Linked DNA regions of Homo sapiens: region 2 is linked to region 1. Evidence: fine-mapped expression QTL. Tissue or cell type: whole blood. Region 1 holds a variant in brackets; the other region holds the start of a gene. All regions are shown on one strand. Distances are between the middles of the regions.

What was found. PIP is the estimated chance that this variant, and not a neighbour inherited with it, causes the effect.
Region 2: CHCHD10 starts here. The variant in region 1 is fine-mapped to the expression of CHCHD10 in whole blood (TOPMed, PIP above 0.99).

What each region holds. Positions count from the first base shown.
Region 1 is chr22:23,813,273-23,821,350 of GRCh38, reverse strand. It overlaps SMARCB1 (SWI/SNF related BAF chromatin remodeling complex subunit B1), which reads right to left. Exons shown (of 9, transcript NM_003073.5): 6 at 4,415-4,581. Among named protein-coding and RNA genes, the nearest start is that of DERL3, 22 kb to the left of the region's middle. RefSeq lists enhancers at 4,418-4,919, 4,920-5,421. The variant G/T (reference allele first, on the strand shown) is at 4,639.
Region 2 is chr22:23,763,584-23,771,661 of GRCh38, reverse strand. CHCHD10 (coiled-coil-helix-coiled-coil-helix domain containing 10) reads left to right here and starts at 3,690. Exons shown (of 4, transcript NM_213720.3): 1 at 3,690-3,828; 2 at 4,069-4,288; 3 at 5,387-5,534; 4 at 5,636-5,828. The coding sequence starts at 3,788. The coding sequence ends at 5,655. It overlaps C22orf15 (chromosome 22 open reading frame 15), which reads right to left. Exons shown (of 6, transcript NM_182520.3): 2 at 7,489-7,575; 3 at 7,265-7,402; 4 at 6,949-7,023; 5 at 6,760-6,869; 6 at 5,799-5,941. The coding sequence ends at 5,930. It overlaps LOC107985577 (a long non-coding RNA gene), which reads right to left and starts at 3,436. Exons shown (of 3, transcript XR_007068022.1): 1 at 2,869-3,436; 2 at 355-475. RefSeq lists enhancers at 4,553-5,352, 5,353-6,152.

The DNA.
Region 1 (8,078 bases):
CATGGGCAAGACAGGACACTGTTCCCAGGGTCACGGTGCCCAGGAGGCCTCTGGCCTGAAAAATGCAGTCTGTCCCACATAACACAGGCTTCCCTGGGCCAGCTGTGTCCACCCTGTGACATCTGGTCTGACCCAAAGGGCAGAGCAGGACACCTGGCTGGGGACAGTCTCTCAACCTGCCAGCTGCCACCATCCCCCAGGTGGGAATCACAGGTAAGTCAGAGGGTCACTGGGGAAGCCTCTTCTGGTGGGGCAGGGAACAGCCCCAGGAGGATTACAGCTGCTGGGCAACTTCCTGTATGGCTCCTCTGCAGGCCCCGTCAAGACAACAACAATGAAAATGGGCTCAATTCTGAGAAAAACGTTAAGGGAAGCTACCAGTCAGGCTTCATGAGGCCCCTTGTGTGGCCAATCCCAGTCATTTGGAACCACGTGGCTGGGTGGGTTAGCCCACACAGCCTCATCCTCCACATGTTTACAAGACAAAGAGAAGCACAGAGTGGAGCCCTCAGGGCTGCCCTCCAGAGCCAGCAGACCGTATGCAGGACACAGGCCAGGTGCTTGCTGCCACTCCCATCCCCACCCCACTTCTCTCCTACCATTGTCCCTTCTTTTCCTCCTAGCTGGCCATAATGTGAAACTGAAACAAATTTGTATTCCTCTCAAAAAGGTATTAACAAGTAAAGAGACTGAATCAATAATAAAATCTTCCTGACAAAGAAAAGCCTTAGACCTGATGGCTTCATTGGTGAATTCTACCAAACACTGATTGACTGACTGAGTCAGAGTCTCGCTGTCAGCCAGGCTGGACTGCAGTGGCACCATCTCGGCTCACTGCAACCTCCGCCTCCCGGGCTCAAGCAATTCTCTTGCCTCAGCCTCCTGAGTAGCTGGGATTACAGGTGTGTGCCACCATACCCGGCTAATTTTTGTATTTTTAGTAGAGACGGGGTTTCACCATGTTGGTCAGGTAGTCTCTAACTCCCGACCTCAGGTGATCCGCCCGCCTCGGTCTCCCAAAGTGCTGGGATTACAGGCGTGAGCCACTGCACCCGGCCATCTACCAAACATTTAAATAGGAGCTAACACCAATCCTTCTCAAACTATTCTTTAACTCATTGCCCTGATACCTAAGTCAGACAAAAAATACTACAAGAAAGGAAAACTACAGACCTACACCCCTTATGAATGTTGATGCAAAAATCCTCAAAAAAATGCTGGCAAACTGGCCGGGCACAGTGGCTCACGTCTATAATCCTTTGGGAGGCCAAGGCAGGTGGATCACCTGTGGTCGGGAGTTCGAGACCAGCCTGGTCAATATGATGAGACCCCGTCTCTACTAAAAGTACAAAATTTAGCCGGGCGTGGTGGCATGCGCCTGTAGTCCCAGCTCCTCCTCGAGAGGCTGAAGCAGGAAAATCGCTTGAATCCAGGAGGTGGAAGTTGCAGTGAGCCAAGATCATGCCACTGCACTCCAGCCTGGGTAACAGAGCGAGACTCTGTCTAGAAAAAGAAAAGAAAAGAAAAACTAACAAGTGTGAGTGAGGATGTGGAGAAACTGGAACCCCTGCGCCTTGCTGGTAGGAATATAAAAGGTGCAGCCACCGAGAAAGGCAGTATAGTGGATCCTCAAAAAACTAAACATGGAATTACTGTACGATCCAGGAATTCCATTTCTAGGTATACACCCAAAAGAAATGAAAGCAGGGGCCAGACACAGGGGCTCACACCTATAATCCCAGCACTTTAGGAGGCCGAGGTGGGCAGATCATTTGAGTTTGGGAGGCTGAGGCGGAGTTTGAGACCAGGCTGGCCAACATGGTGAAACCCGGTCTCTATTAAAAATCCAAAAAAATTAGCTGGGCATGGTGGTGGGTGCCAGTAATCCCAGCTACTCAGGAAGCTGAAGCAGGAGATTGCTTGAACCTGGGAGGCAGGAGTGCCATGAGCCAAGATCGCGCCACTGCACTCCAGCCTGAGCAACAGAGTGAGACTCCATCTAAATGAATGAATGAATGAATGAATGAATAAATGAAAACAGGGACACCAACAGATACCTGCACACCCAGGTTCATAGCAGCATTATTCACAATAGCCAAAATGTGGAAGCAACCCAAGTGTCTGTCCATTTAGGGATGAATAAATAAAAATGTGATAGATCCATACAACAGAATATTATTTAGCCTTAATAAGAAAGGAGGCTGGGCGCAGTGGCTCACGCCTGTAATCCCAGCACTTTGGGAGGCTCAGGTGGGCAGATGGCTTGAGCCCAGGAGTTTGAGACCAGCCTGGGCAACATGGCGAAACCCCATCTCTACAAAAAAAATACAAAAAATCAGTCGGGTGTGGTGGAGTGTGCCGGTAGTCCTAGCTTCCCAGCTACTCAGGAGGCTGCACCGGGTGGATCACTTGAGCCCAGGAAGCAGAGGTTGCAGTGAGCCATAACTGCGCCACTGCACTCCAGCCTGGGCAACAGAGTAAGACCCTGTCTAAAAATAAATACATTTTAAAAAGGGAAGGAAATTCTGACATGGTGCAACATAAATGAACCTTGAAGACATTCTGCTAAGTGAAATAAGCCAGTCACAAAAGGACAAATACTGCATGATTCCCTTAGGAATGTAAATGAGACACCTCGAGTAGTCAAATTCATAGAGACAGAAAGCAGAATGGTGCTTGCCAGGGGTGGGGGGAGGGGGAATGGGGAGTTAGTGTTTGATGGACAGTTTCAGTTTTACATGATGATAGAATTCTGGAGATGGATGGTGGTGATAATTACACAGCCATGGATGTGAATATACTGCCACTGAATTTACACTTAAGTGGTTAAAATGGTAAATTTTATGTTATGAATGTTACCACAATTTTAAAATATTAATCAAGAAAACAAAGTATTGGCCAGGTGTGGTGGCTCATGCCTGTAATCCCAGCACTCTGGGAGGTCGAGGTGGGCAGATCACGAGGTCCAGAGATCGAGACCATCCTGGCTAACGCGGTGAAACCCAGTCTCTGCTATAAAAAATACAAAAAATTAGCCAGGCGTGGTGGCAAGCGCCTGTAGTCCCAGCTACTTGGGAGGCTGAGGTAGGAGAATGGTGTGAACCCAGGAGGCGGAGCTTGCAGTGAGCTGAGATCGCACACTGCAAGCCAGCCTGGGCGACAGAGTGAGACTGCGACACACACACACACACACACACACACACACACACACACCCAAAGTATTTCGGCCAGGTGCGGTGGCTCATGCCTGTAATCCCAGCACTTTGGGAGGCTGAGGTGGGTGGATCACCTGAGGTAAGGAGTTTGAGACCAGACTGACAAATATGGTGAAACCCTGTCTCTACTAAAAATACAAAAATTAGCCTGGCTTAGTGGCGGGCAACTGTAATCCTAGCTACTCAGGAGGCTGAGACAGGAGAATTGCTTGAACCCGGGAGGTGGAGGTTGCAATGAGTCAAGATCGAGCCACTGCACTCCAGCCTGGGCGACACAGTGAGACTGTCTTGACTAACTAAATAAGATATTTAGTTGTTTGTTACTTGGGGGACCACAGAGGAAGTTGCTGGTGATTCCCCCACGTTATTTTCCAAAATCTTAGTAAAGTGCCACGGAGAACCACAGTGGGAAGAAGTCGGCCCAGGCTCCATCTGGTGCACGGGGCAGAGGCATCCCTCAGTCACAGGAGGCATCCCTCCCGAGGCTCCTCGACCCCAAAGACTATTTTCAGGAACCCTTTGTAACATGGCTCTTATTTTTATACATCAATGTTTTCCTAAAATGGAAGCCAAAGGCACAGCATCAGATCTAACCAAACCACTGACCTTTTTAGGGTCATCACATGTGCCAATTTCACCTACTTCTCATATCTTCCTATTTTCAAAGCTCCCCTCACCCTCAAGGCATAGTCTGGCAGTGGCGGCTCAGCACAGCAAGGATTATGCTATAGGCTCTGCAGGGTGCAGGCCTGCGCCCAATCGCCAGCCTCACCATTTCTCAACTGGCCAGTTTGCAACTTCCGCAGGTGATCTCAGCTCTCCACGTGCCCACCTCTTCACCTGTAATATGGCCACTAAGGCAGCATCTTATTGGGTTACTAGGCCCCCCTGGAGCACTCAGCCTGGCCCAGCCAATCAGCTGCCTTCACCTCCTCTAGACCTCCGGGCTTTGCTCAGAGCCTGGCAGTGCCTCAGAGACACCCCCTGAATGTGTCCGGAATATAACACTTTACTATGAGAACTCAGCCTATGCCCTTCCTGGGGGATTGCAGGGAGCAAAGCCAGGTGTTATGACTTTCCAGATGATATGGAACCCAAAGACGGGCTTCTGCTGAGGCCTTGGTGTACCCTCAGTGCTCCATGATGACACCCACCCTGAGGGCCAGGAAGGCTCCAGTGCTGGGTGAGAAGTCACCTACCTTGATGATGACGCGCTGGTCTGACTGGTCCTCCAGGATGCTGTCCGTGGGGTAGGACTCGATCTGCTGTCTGATGGCAGAGGCGATGGCTGGCACAAACGTCAGCGGGTTCAAATCCAGATCGTCACAGAGGATTTCTGAAAACATCTCAGGCGTCATCAACTTCTCTGAAATCAGGAGAGGGAAGGGATGCCAAGAGATTGCACCATGCTTGGGCATGGACC[G/T]GCCTCCCTCACCCCTTCTTCTTTGAAGCCAAACATCTCCGGATGCAGGAGAGGACAACCAGGGCACTGGGGGTGGCCTTCCTGGAAACTGGGAGTGGAAGGAGGAAGCACATGACTAGCAGGCCCCCAGCCCTCATCCTGCACAGACCTCCTGCTCCATGCCCTGGGGGTGGTCATGGCCATAAACACTTCCCTCATTCCACTCATAGCTGGGTGGGCGCATGAGATTATCCCAACTAATGAGATGATCCAGGCGAGGCCAGCAAAGGCACATCAAAGCTTGCGTGCCATCTCTCTACTCCCCTCTGTGCTGAACTGGTGGCAGACGTGATGGCACAGAGGCTGGCCCAATACCAGGCCTCATGTGAGCAAAACACACTGTGCCAAGCCACAGCGATTTCCAGGCCTGTGACTGCAGTAGCAGCAGCAGGGCCTCAACAAGGTCACAAGCGTGGAGGTCCCTACAGATCCCGGATCCTGGAAAAGGAATTGTACCAGATGGGAGCTCACAGGGACCATCTGTGGCCAGCCAGACCTCAGCAAGGTCCTCTCAGTCAACATTCTCTCCCTGCTCCACCCAGACCGTACTGACAAGACGCCTTGCAGGAATAAGCTGAAAAAGCCAAGAAAAATTGCCTCAGAGCAGACAGTAGGATTCCATCATCAAGAAGCAGGTCGGCCTAACAGACCACAGCCCCACTATCTCCTCCCTGCCCTAAAGACACGCTGGAGACCAGCATCCTAACAGCCTGCGGGGCAGCAACAGCAGGAACCTCAGGTGCACGGGGTAAACACCCAGTGAATACACTGCCCAGAGCATTTTAAAATTTTTAAGTAATTGTAGATTCATGTACAGATGCAAGAAACAACACAGAGAAATTCCATGCACACTGCGCCCAGTTTCCTCCAAAAAAGACAAGATAGAGGACTGTATCTGTATCCAGTGATTCATCCAGATTGTCACTTCCTTTTACTGCCAAGTGACATTCTGTGGTACGAAGGGGCCTCACTTTAACTATTCACTCACTGAAGGCTATCTAGATCATTTCCAGTTTCCCGCTATTATAAATAAAGCTGCTATGAACATCCACGTGTAGGCTATTGTATAAACATGTCTTCATTTCTCCAGGATAAATGCTCAAGGTACACTGGTTGCATGTTTAGTTTTTTGTTTGTTTTGAGACGGAGTCTCGCTCTGTCGCCCAGGATGGAGTGCAGTGGCGCTATATCGGCTCACTGCAAGCTCCGCCTCCCGGGTTCACGCCATTCTCCTGCTTCAGCCTCCCGAGTAGCTGGGACTACAAGCAGCCACCACCACGCCCAGCTAATTTTTTGTATTTTTAGAAGAGACAGGGTTTCACCATGTTAACCAGGATGGTCTCGATCTCCTGACCTCGTGATCCGCCCGCCTCGGCCTCCCAAAGTGCTGGGATTACAGGTGTGAGCCACCACGCCTGGCCGCATGTTTAGTTTTTAACAGAAATTGCCACACTGTTTTCTAGGGCAGTTTTCCAGCCACTTTACATTCCCATCAGCAGCTTGTGAGTGACCCAGTTCCTCCACATCCTCGCCAGCATCTGATGCTGTCACCACTTTTTAAAGATGTGGAATAACAGTGTAATTTTAATCTGCATTTCCCTAAGGCTAACAATGTGGAAAAGCTTTTCAATGTTTATTTGCCACCTATATAACTTCTTTAGTGAAATTTCTCTTCCTGTCTTTTGCCTTTTTTTTTTTTTTTTGAGACGGAGTTTTGCTCTTGTTGCCCAGGCTGGAGCGCAACGGCGTGATCTTGGCTCACAGCAACCTCGGCCTCCTGGGTTCAAGCAATTCTCCTGACTCAGCCTCCCAAGTAGCTGGAATTACAGGCATGCGCCACCATGCCCGGCTAATTTTGTATTTTTAGTAGAGACGAGGTTTCTCCACGTTGGTCAAGCTGGTCTCAAACTCCTGACCTCAGGTGATCCGCCCACCTCAGCCTCCCAAAGTGCTGGGATTACAGGCGTGAGCCACTGTGCCCAGCCTTTTTTGTTGTTGTTGCTTTTTTGGGACAGAGTTTCACTCTTGTTGCCCAGGATGGATTGCAACAGCGTGATCTCGGCTCACAGCAACCTCTGCCTTCCAGGTTCAAGCGATTCTCCTGCCTCACCCGCCCGAGTAGCTGGGGTTACAGGCATGCGCCACCACGCCCAGCTAATTGTGTATTTTTAGTAGAGACGAGGTTTCTCCATCTTGGTCAGGCTGGTCTCGAACTCGTGATCTCAGGTGATCTGCCCACCTCAGCCTCCCGAAGTGCTAGGATTACAGACGTAAGCCACTGTGCCAGCCTACTTGCCTATGATTGTCTAATTGCTCCAGTGCCATTTTGTTGAATGAGCTGTCTTTCCTCCATTGAATCACATTTGCATCTTTGTAAAAATCAGGAGGGCACGTTTGTGTGGGTCTGTTTCTGGATTCTCAATTCTGTTCCATCACGGTATGTCACTCCACCAATACCACACAGCCTTGATTATCGTAGCTATATAGTAAGCCTTGAGATTGGGTAGAATGATTACTCCCACTTTACTGTTTTTCAAAATTGCTGGCCGGGTGTGGTGGCTCATGCCTGTAATCCCAGCACTTTGGGAGGCTGAGACAGGCGGACTGCCTGAGCTCAGGAGTTTGAGACCAACCTGGCCAACATGGTAATACCCTGTCTCTACTAAAAATACAAAAATTAGCCAGGCATGGTGGCGGGCACCTGTAATCCCACCTACTCGGGAGACTAAGGCAGGAGAAACGCTTGAAACCGGAAGGTGGAGGTTACAGTGAGCAGAGATCATGCCACTGCACTCCAGCCTGGGCAAAAGAGCAAAACTCCATCTCAAAAAAAAATAATAATAATAATAAATAAATTGCTTTAGCTATTTTAGTTTCTTTGCCTTTCCATATAAATCTTAGAACCATCTTATCTACAAAAAAAATCTTGCTGGGATTTTCACAGAAATTGCATTAAATCTGTATATCAATTTGGGGAAAACTGACATCATCTTGAGTCTTTTAATCCATGAATATGATATGTCTACTTATTTAGGTCTTCCTTCATTACTTTCGTCAGTGTTTTATAGTTTTTGGTATATAAGTCCTGTAAATGTTTTGTTGGATTTATACCTAAGTATTCCTTTTTTTATTGAGTGATGATAAATGGTAATGTATTTTTAATTTGTGTCTAGGTACTCATTAATGGCATATAGAAATAAAATGGATTTCTGCATGTTTACCTTGTATCCCTTGTATCTTGTGACCCTGGGGAATTCAGTTATTAGTTCTCCAAGTTTTCTGTAGATCCCTTGGGATTTTCTACACGGACAATCATGTCATCTGCAAATAGGATTTTATTTCTTCCTTTCCAATCTACACGTCTTTTATTTCCTTTTCTCAGCTTACTGGATTAGCTAGAA
Region 2 (8,078 bases), 50 kb after region 1:
CGAGGTCAGGAGTTGGAGAGCAGCCTGACCAACATGGTGAAACCCTGTCTCTACTAAAAATACAAAAATTAGCCAGGTGTGGTGGCACACACCTGTAAGCCCAGCTACTCAGGAGGCTGAAGCAGGAGAATCACTTGAACCCGGGAGGCGGAGGTTGCAGTGAGCCGAGATTGTTCCATTGCACTCCAGCCTGGGTGACAGAGCGAGACTCCATCTCAAAAAAAAGAAGGAAAGGAGGTGAGACTCAAAGGAGGGGTTGTGTCCACATTCTGGAAGGGATCCTTCAGTCTCATCCCTGATTTTCGGGGTTACCCAGTACTGCTGTACACCCCCTGAAATGATGAAGGGCCTCACCACCTCACCAGGCGACCTGTTCCATCATGGGTGGCCCTGCAGAGCCACGATCCAGGCAGTGGCTCGCATCCTGGCAGGCAGGGCTCTGAGCTGCTCAAAGGTGAGGCTGTGGTCAGGAAGCCTGGGCCAAGAAAGGGAAGCGGGTGGGGAAATGTTTCACAGCTTATTCAAGAAGACTCCACAGAGACTCCTAGAGGGCGAGGAGAAGTAAGACAGCAGTAATTTTTACAACCTACACTGTTCGTAATCTTTTCTTTTTTTTTTTTTTTTTTTTGAGACGGAGTCTCTCTCTGTCGCCCAGGCTGGAGTGCAGTGACGCGATCTCGGCTCACTGCAAGCTCCGCCTCCCAGGTTCATGCCATTCTCCTGCCTCAGTCTCCCGAGTAGCTGGGACTACAGGCGCCCGCCACCATGCCCAGCTAATTTTTTATATTTTTAGTAGAGATGGGGTTTCACCGTGTTGGCCAGGCTGGTCTTGAACTCCTGACCTCAGGTGATCCACCCGCCTCGGCCTCCCAAAGTGCTGGGATTACAGGCGTGAGCCACCGCGCCTGAAAGGCAATCTTTTCTTTAAAGTCACTCACTTTTATTTACTTTTATTATTTTGAGACAGGGTCTTGCTCAATGGTGTGATCTTGGCTCACTGCAACCTCCGCCTTCCAGGCTCAAACGATCCTCCTGCCTCAGCCTCCCAAGTAGCTGGGACTACCGGTGTGCATCACTATGCCCTGCTAATTTTTGTATTTTTTGTAGAGACAGGGTTTCACCATGTTGGCCAGGCTGGTCTCGAACTCCTGGACTCAAGCAATCTGCCTGCCTGGGACTCACAAAGTTCTGGGATATAGACATGAGCCACTATTCCCCGCTAAAGTGACTCATTTTTAAAAAGTAGGCATTTCAGGCCAGGCGTGGTGGCTCATGCCTGTAATCCCAGCACTTTGGGAGGCTGAGGCAGGCGGATCACAAGAGACCATCCTGGCCAACATGGTGAAACCCTGTCTCTACTAAAAATACAAAAAAAAATTAGCTGGGCATGGTGGCACGTGCCTGTAGTCCCAGCTACTTGGGAAGCTGAAGCAGGAGAATCACTTGAACCCGGGAGGTGGAGGTTGCAGTAAGCTGAGATCACACCACCGCACTCCAGCCTGGCAACAGAGTGAGACTCTGTTTAAAAAAACAAAAACAAAAACAAAAAAACAACAAAAAACAAACAATTAGCGGGGCATGGTGGCATGTGCCTGTGGTCCCAGATACTCGGGAGGCTGAGGCAAGAGAATCGCTTGAACCCAGGAGGCAGAAGTTGCAGTGAGTGGAGATCATACCACTGCACTCCAGCCTGAGCGACAGAGCAAGACTCCGTTTCAAAAAAAAAAAAAAAAAAAAGTTGGCATTTCAATGCCTGCTTCAGTGTCATCCTTTCAGCCTCATTTTCATTTGTGTAACCCACTTAAGTGGTCTTGGGTGCCTCCGAGGTGCAAGGCCATGCTTTGTGGAACCTGCAGTCCATCAGCCATGGGAGCTGAAGTAACAACTCTCTGCAGTTTAGGCCCGGGGACCACCATGAGAAGTGTTCAGTTTGTTTGGTGTGGCAAACAGGAACCAGGTGGCATGGACTGCATGAACAAGGGAGTAGCGGCTGGACCAGGCCTGGTGAGTCTGCCAGGAAAGAATGGCCCACCCTTGGTGTGCTCACCTCACTGGGAGGCCACCCTCAAGGTGGGTGGTCACCCCCCTTCAGAGAGGAGAAACTGAAGACAGGGCGGGGAAGGGCCCTGTTCACAGGCTGGCTGAAAGGACTGCAGTGTGAGAGAACACAGGGCTGCACCTGACTTCCATGGAGAGCATGCATGGCTGGGGACAGCTGTGCACACACAGAATTGAGCATGCCAGGCAGGGCCAAACGCCCCAGCCACCACTCCCCTTGCCCCTTGACCTGCTCCTTCCTTATGGAGGGGCCTCCTCTCTTACTTGGTGACCCACACCCCCACTTCTGGGTGCTTTTGCTCTTGGTTGCACCCTGCCGACAATCCCGGTGTCAGGAGTCCTCTGCAGGCACAGCAGTGATGAGGGACAGTCCCTACCTTCCCCCACCTAGGAGTAATAATATGACCACTGCAAAGTCACCCAGAAAAGACCATAAAAACCTCAAGCTCAGCCGGGCGCGATGGCTCATGCTTGTAATCCCAGCACTTTGGGAGGCTGAGGTAGGAGGATCATGAGCTCAGGAGTTGGAGACCAGTTTGGCCAACATGGTGAAACCCCGTCTCTACTAAAAATACAAAAATTAGCCAGGTGTGGTGGCACGAGCCTGTAGTCCCAGCTACTCAGGAGGCTGAGGCAGGAGAATTGCTTGAATCCGGGAGGTGGAGGTTGCAGTGAGCCGAGATCGCCACTGCACTCCAACCTGGGCGACAGAGCAAGGCTCCGTGTCAAAAAAAAAAAAGTAAAAAGTAAAATTAAAACCTCAAGTTCTCGAAGAGCAGGAAAGCATTCTAAATCCGCGCTCCAGCTCACCTGGCCTGGAACGAAGCTGCTAAAATTGCGAGGCCGCAGGCTTCAAACTTGCGCTAGATTTGACCGAGCCGGGCAAATGCTCCTAGGCCTTTGGGATAGACACGCTGCTCGGATGTCGCGTAAAGGCCGTTAGTGTCGGGGGTTGCACTCGCGGGGCCAGGGACTAGGTGGGGGCGGTCGGGCCGGCCCGGGGAATCCGGTGGGGTTCAGGGCCGCGCGGGGGGCCTCATATCCCCCGCGGGCACTGCGTAAGGCTGCCAGCATTGGCAGCGCATTTTGGCCAACAGTCGAAGACGGGTTGGGACGCCCCCTCGTGGGAGTTCTGGGGATGGGTTGCTCCAGGCCTTCCCCAGGGCCGCGCTTCACTTCCCTAGGCCACCGGAGACTCCCAGGCCACGCGGTGGTCAGCAGACCCTGTCTGGAGGGAGGGGACAGACAGCCGAGTCCGGGAGGGGGCAGAGAGCGGAGTCCAGCCTGGAGCCTCGCGTCCCCTTCCCAGCTGGCCCCATCCCGTCGCCTCCCCGTCTCCTCTCCCCTCCAGGGCTCGCAACAACCCCCAACTCCGCTCCCTGCCCTCTGCGGTGGTCCTAACAGAAGGCACTGTCGCCCTCCTTAAGCCCTCGGCGCTTTGCGACACTGGCCCCTGTCCCCAGAACCCGCACAGCCTGCCAGGCGCAGGGAGGGAGCAGGGTCCCATTTCCAGCCGAGACCCGGAGCTGCTGGAAGGGAGATGTCCGGAGGACGGGAGAAGGGGGATAGGGTTGGGGGCAGTGCCGCCTCCCGCTGGGGGCGTGTTCCTGAGGCCCCGCCCGGGGCCCCGCCTTTTTTGCGCCGGCTGTGACAAGCGCTGCGGCATTTGTCCCCGCGACAGCACCGCTGCCGCCGTCTCTAAGGTCGCCCGGGTCCCACCGCCGCCACCATGCCTCGGGGAAGCCGCAGCGCGGCCTCCCGGCCAGCCAGGTGTGAGGGGGACAAGGGCCCTGTGGGGAGGGGGTTAGGGAAGTGTGGGCACTCCCCTAAGGGCGTCCGCAGAGTGACCTTGGCTGCTGCTGCGCCATCTTGGCGGGGGGAGGGGTGGGGGTGCAGCACCCACGTGTGGAGACGTGGGTCGTCCATCTCTCCGGGGGTCGTTTCCAGGAGCTGCAGCCCTCCAGCCTGGGGTCTGGCCAGGATTAACCCTGCTTCCTCCCACCCCCGCAGCCGCCCAGCCGCGCCCTCTGCCCACCCGCCCGCGCACCCACCGCCCTCGGCAGCCGCCCCAGCCCCCGCCCCTTCGGGCCAGCCGGGGCTCATGGCTCAGATGGCGACCACGGCCGCAGGGGTAGCCGTGGGCTCGGCTGTGGGACACGTCATGGGCAGCGCCCTGACCGGAGCCTTCAGCGGGGGGAGCTCGGAGCCCTCCCAGCCTGCTGTCCAGCAGGTGAGCAGCGAGTCCAAGAGAAACTGAGGCAGGATTATCTCGAGGCCACACAGGGAGCTGCCCAAGTGTCCAGTGAGGAGTGTCCGCGTGTATTCACCATTGCTTCAGCCCAGGACTCTGCCCGGGAAGGGTCCTAGTCCACTGGTCTTGAGTTCACTGTCACTTAGAGGCAGGCTTCCCGGCCTCTCCCTTGAGGCCAGGGTCCCTAAGCTCCCAGGGAGAGACACCAACCAGCCCTTTAAAGATGGGAAACCCAGGCCCTGAGGGCTCAGAGACTCGCCCAAGGTCACCTCACCCTAGCAGAGGGGAGGGATGTTGGATTTCCTGAGCCCCTGTTCTCCCCACACCCAGGTCTGGGCACTGTGGCCGCTGGGCGCAAGGGCGAAGGGGAGCCACTTCCCTGATGACCTTTCCCCTGCTAGGAACCCCACCGCCGTAAGCCAAATGTGGCTTTGTGGCTAGGTCAGGGGTCATGAGGATTAGTGTAGCTGAGCCAGGAAGGTGCTAGAACTTGTGGGGGTGGGGCTCATACTCTGAGAGTACAGGCAGAGTACTGGGCTTTCCTAGAGCCTTCTCCTCCCTCTCCTGCACCCGCCCAAAGTGCCCATTAGAAGGCAGCAGAGGCCAGGCGCAGTGGCTCATGCCTGTAATCCCAGCACTTTGGGAGGCCAAGGCGGGTGGATCATGAGTTCAGGAGTTCGATACCAGCCTGGCCAACATAGTGAAACCCCCTCTCTACTAAAAATACAAAAAATTTGTTGGGCATGGTGGCGGGCGCCTGTAGCCCCAGCTACTTGGGAGGCCAAGGCAGGACAACCACTTGAACCCGGGAGGCGGAGGTTGCAGTGAGCCGAGACTGCGCCGCTGCACTCCACTCTAGGTGACAGAGTGAGACTCTGTCTCAAAAAAAAAAAAAAAAAAAGGCAGCAGAAACATGCTGTCTGTAGCCGCCTCTGCTGCTGGATCACTCAGCCTGCCTAGGACCCTTGGGACACCCAGGCTGGGGATGTGGGGAGGGGCAGGTGGCCCCAGGTTTGAAACGCACCTCCAGGTGCCAACTCCAAGCTGATCCTGCAGCCTCTTGCACTGTACCCCCAGGCCCCCACCCCCGCTGCCCCCCAGCCCCTGCAGATGGGGCCCTGCGCCTACGAGATCAGGCAGTTCCTGGACTGTTCCACCACTCAGAGTGACCTGTCCCTGTGTGAGGGCTTCAGCGAGGCCCTGAAGCAGTGCAAGTACTACCATGGTGAGTGAGTGGACCCCGACTCAGGCGGGGAGGGGGAGAGGCCAACCCTCCTCTTGCACCTGCAGGCTGACCACCAGCCTGTGCTGCCCCTCCCTTCCCAGGTCTGAGCTCCCTGCCCTGAAGAGGTCGGTGCAGACTCGGGGGCCAGTCCTGCACCCACCTCTACCCCTCGCCGACAGCCAGACCACAACACCAGATTGTACCCAGATAGCTGGGATTGGAAGTGAGGAGGTTTCTCACCCCACAGATAACCCAAGACACAAATGTGCAATTAAAAGTTTATTTTAGACCACAGCCTGTTGTGTGCCTCTCTCGATGGCCTGTCTTCAGGGAGCTCCCTGGCTGATGAGGTGGGGTCAGGATGGATGTCTCACTACAGTGTGCAATCCATCCCCTTAATCAGGGCCCTGGGTGGGGAGGAGGAGCCCTGTTGCAATCTGCACTGTGGGTAGCACAGGACAGATTCCTTGGGCAGTCCAGAGTGAGGTGGAGAGGCATTAGTCGGTGATCCCAAGGGCATCTGACTCTGAGGGTGGAATCCCAGGATGAACCCATGGTCTCCCCCTTATCAGGGATACCTGCCACCTCTACCCTTCTTGTCTCTACCTCTGCATCCCATTCTCTGCACCCACAGCTTAGGTGCCCCTGGCGGCCTCAAATCCTGTCTGACCTTGCCCCTCTTGCTGATGCAACTTCTCAGCAATTCCAGATTCTGCAAGAGGAGTCCTGCTGGGTTGTTGTCTGTTTGCACCTGATCACACAAGGCAGAGGTCATGGCTAACCCCCTTGGGTCTGAGTCCAACTTGGCTAGTTGGCAGTAGTGTGCCAGGTCCCCAAGCCTGCCAGAATGGAAGAACAAGCCCTTCAAACCCAGTGTGGGCCGTGCCATCACACACCATGCTGCCGCCTTCATTGAGTTCATCCAGCAGTTGTGCACTGAGCTCCTACTGTGTGCCAGCCCCTATGCCACATCTGTGAAGCCTGAGGACATTCCGGCCCTTAGTGCGCTGGCACTCCCGTGGGGTGGTGGGGACCTGTCTCAGGGTACAGTGTGTTCCATCTGGGGGTATATGTGCGTGGAGTTGGTGTTGAGGGTCTGCCCCTCATCATATGTGTCTGTCCTGCAGGAAGGGATCCCACTCTGGGTGTCTCTGTGGATGTCCAAATCTGCTCTGTACCTGGCTCCCTGCCCCAGCTAGCAACTCCTGGGTGGCAGGGAGCTCACCTTTCTGGGCCTTGAAGTGGGGCTTTGCTCATGGCGGCCTCGCCGAGTGCCCATACGCTTCCTCCAGTTGTGGCCCACAGAGGAGAGGCCTGACAGCCTGCGCAGTTCCTCTGGAAGGCCCAGGAAGTCCTGTTGGTAGGGGTTAGGGAGAAGGTGTGCCCTCCCCCTGGGCTGTACCCTGACACTCACCTGCCAGCTCTGGGTAATGGTCATCCAGGTTCTCCAATAGGGACTCATAGCGGGTGGAGGCCATGTCCTCTCCCTCTGTGACATGTGGAGAGACGATGAAGGACACCTGACTGGCCTAATGGTCCCTACTCTGCCTCTCACTCTGGAACTGTTTGCTAGTCCAGGCTGGGAGCAGAGCATTGGGTAGGGATGGATTGGGGCTAGGTCCCCAGCCGAGGTGGGAGGCCGGACAGGGCCTTGGGTGGTCTATGGTCTGCTATGCCCCCCTCTTACATTCTACCATAGCTGCAGGGGAGAGAACCTTGGGCCACCTTACTGATGATCCGAACGAGGACATATATGGCTCGCTCCTTCAGTAGGGAGTTGCCCATGGTCTGGGCCCGGGAAGCCCCTTCCTTCAGGTCCTCCTCCAGGCTCACTAGGTTGCCATCCTCAGCCAGGAGAGCAATGGTCGCTGGGAGGACATGGAGAGAGACTGGGCAGGGCTGGCACCCCTGCCTGGGACCCCTCAGCCCCTCCTTCTCCTCCCTGTCTCCTCACCATCTGGGGGCAACCCTGCTTTCTGCCTCAGGTGGGCGGTGAGGTTCACCAGCCTGCAAGAGGTGTTCACCAGCACCGAGCAGCCAGCTGTGGAGAGGGGCAAAGGTGAGCCTGTGAGATCTCTTACCTTCCTCCAAATCGGGGTCCTCTGTCTCTCCCTCCCATCTCTCCCTTTCCCAGAGCTGCGACTGGGCCTATGGGCTAAGACTGTGCCCCGGGCATAACAGCTCCAACATCTGTTGCTTAAACTGCCTTGGAGAACCCTCCATCCATCTCCCATGTGTGGTGACTTTTCTCCCATGTGTGGTGACTCCCAAGTGTTGGTCTCTTGAGTCCTGCAAAGCACGAAGTGGGCGCCAGCCCAGCCTCCTCCCGGGACCCGCCCCCACGGGACCCAGCCAGTCCCCGCCCTCCGCACCCACCGGCTCCTCTCTTCCCTTCCGCTACCGCACAGGGCCGACCCGCCTCCAGCCAGAGGCACGGGGACCCTGCAACTGTGGCTAGAGTTTCAGGTGTCTGATGCACGCTGAAGCTTGAGGATCACGGATTGAATGGCGAAGAGATTGTGCGGCTTAAAAACCTGCTCCAGG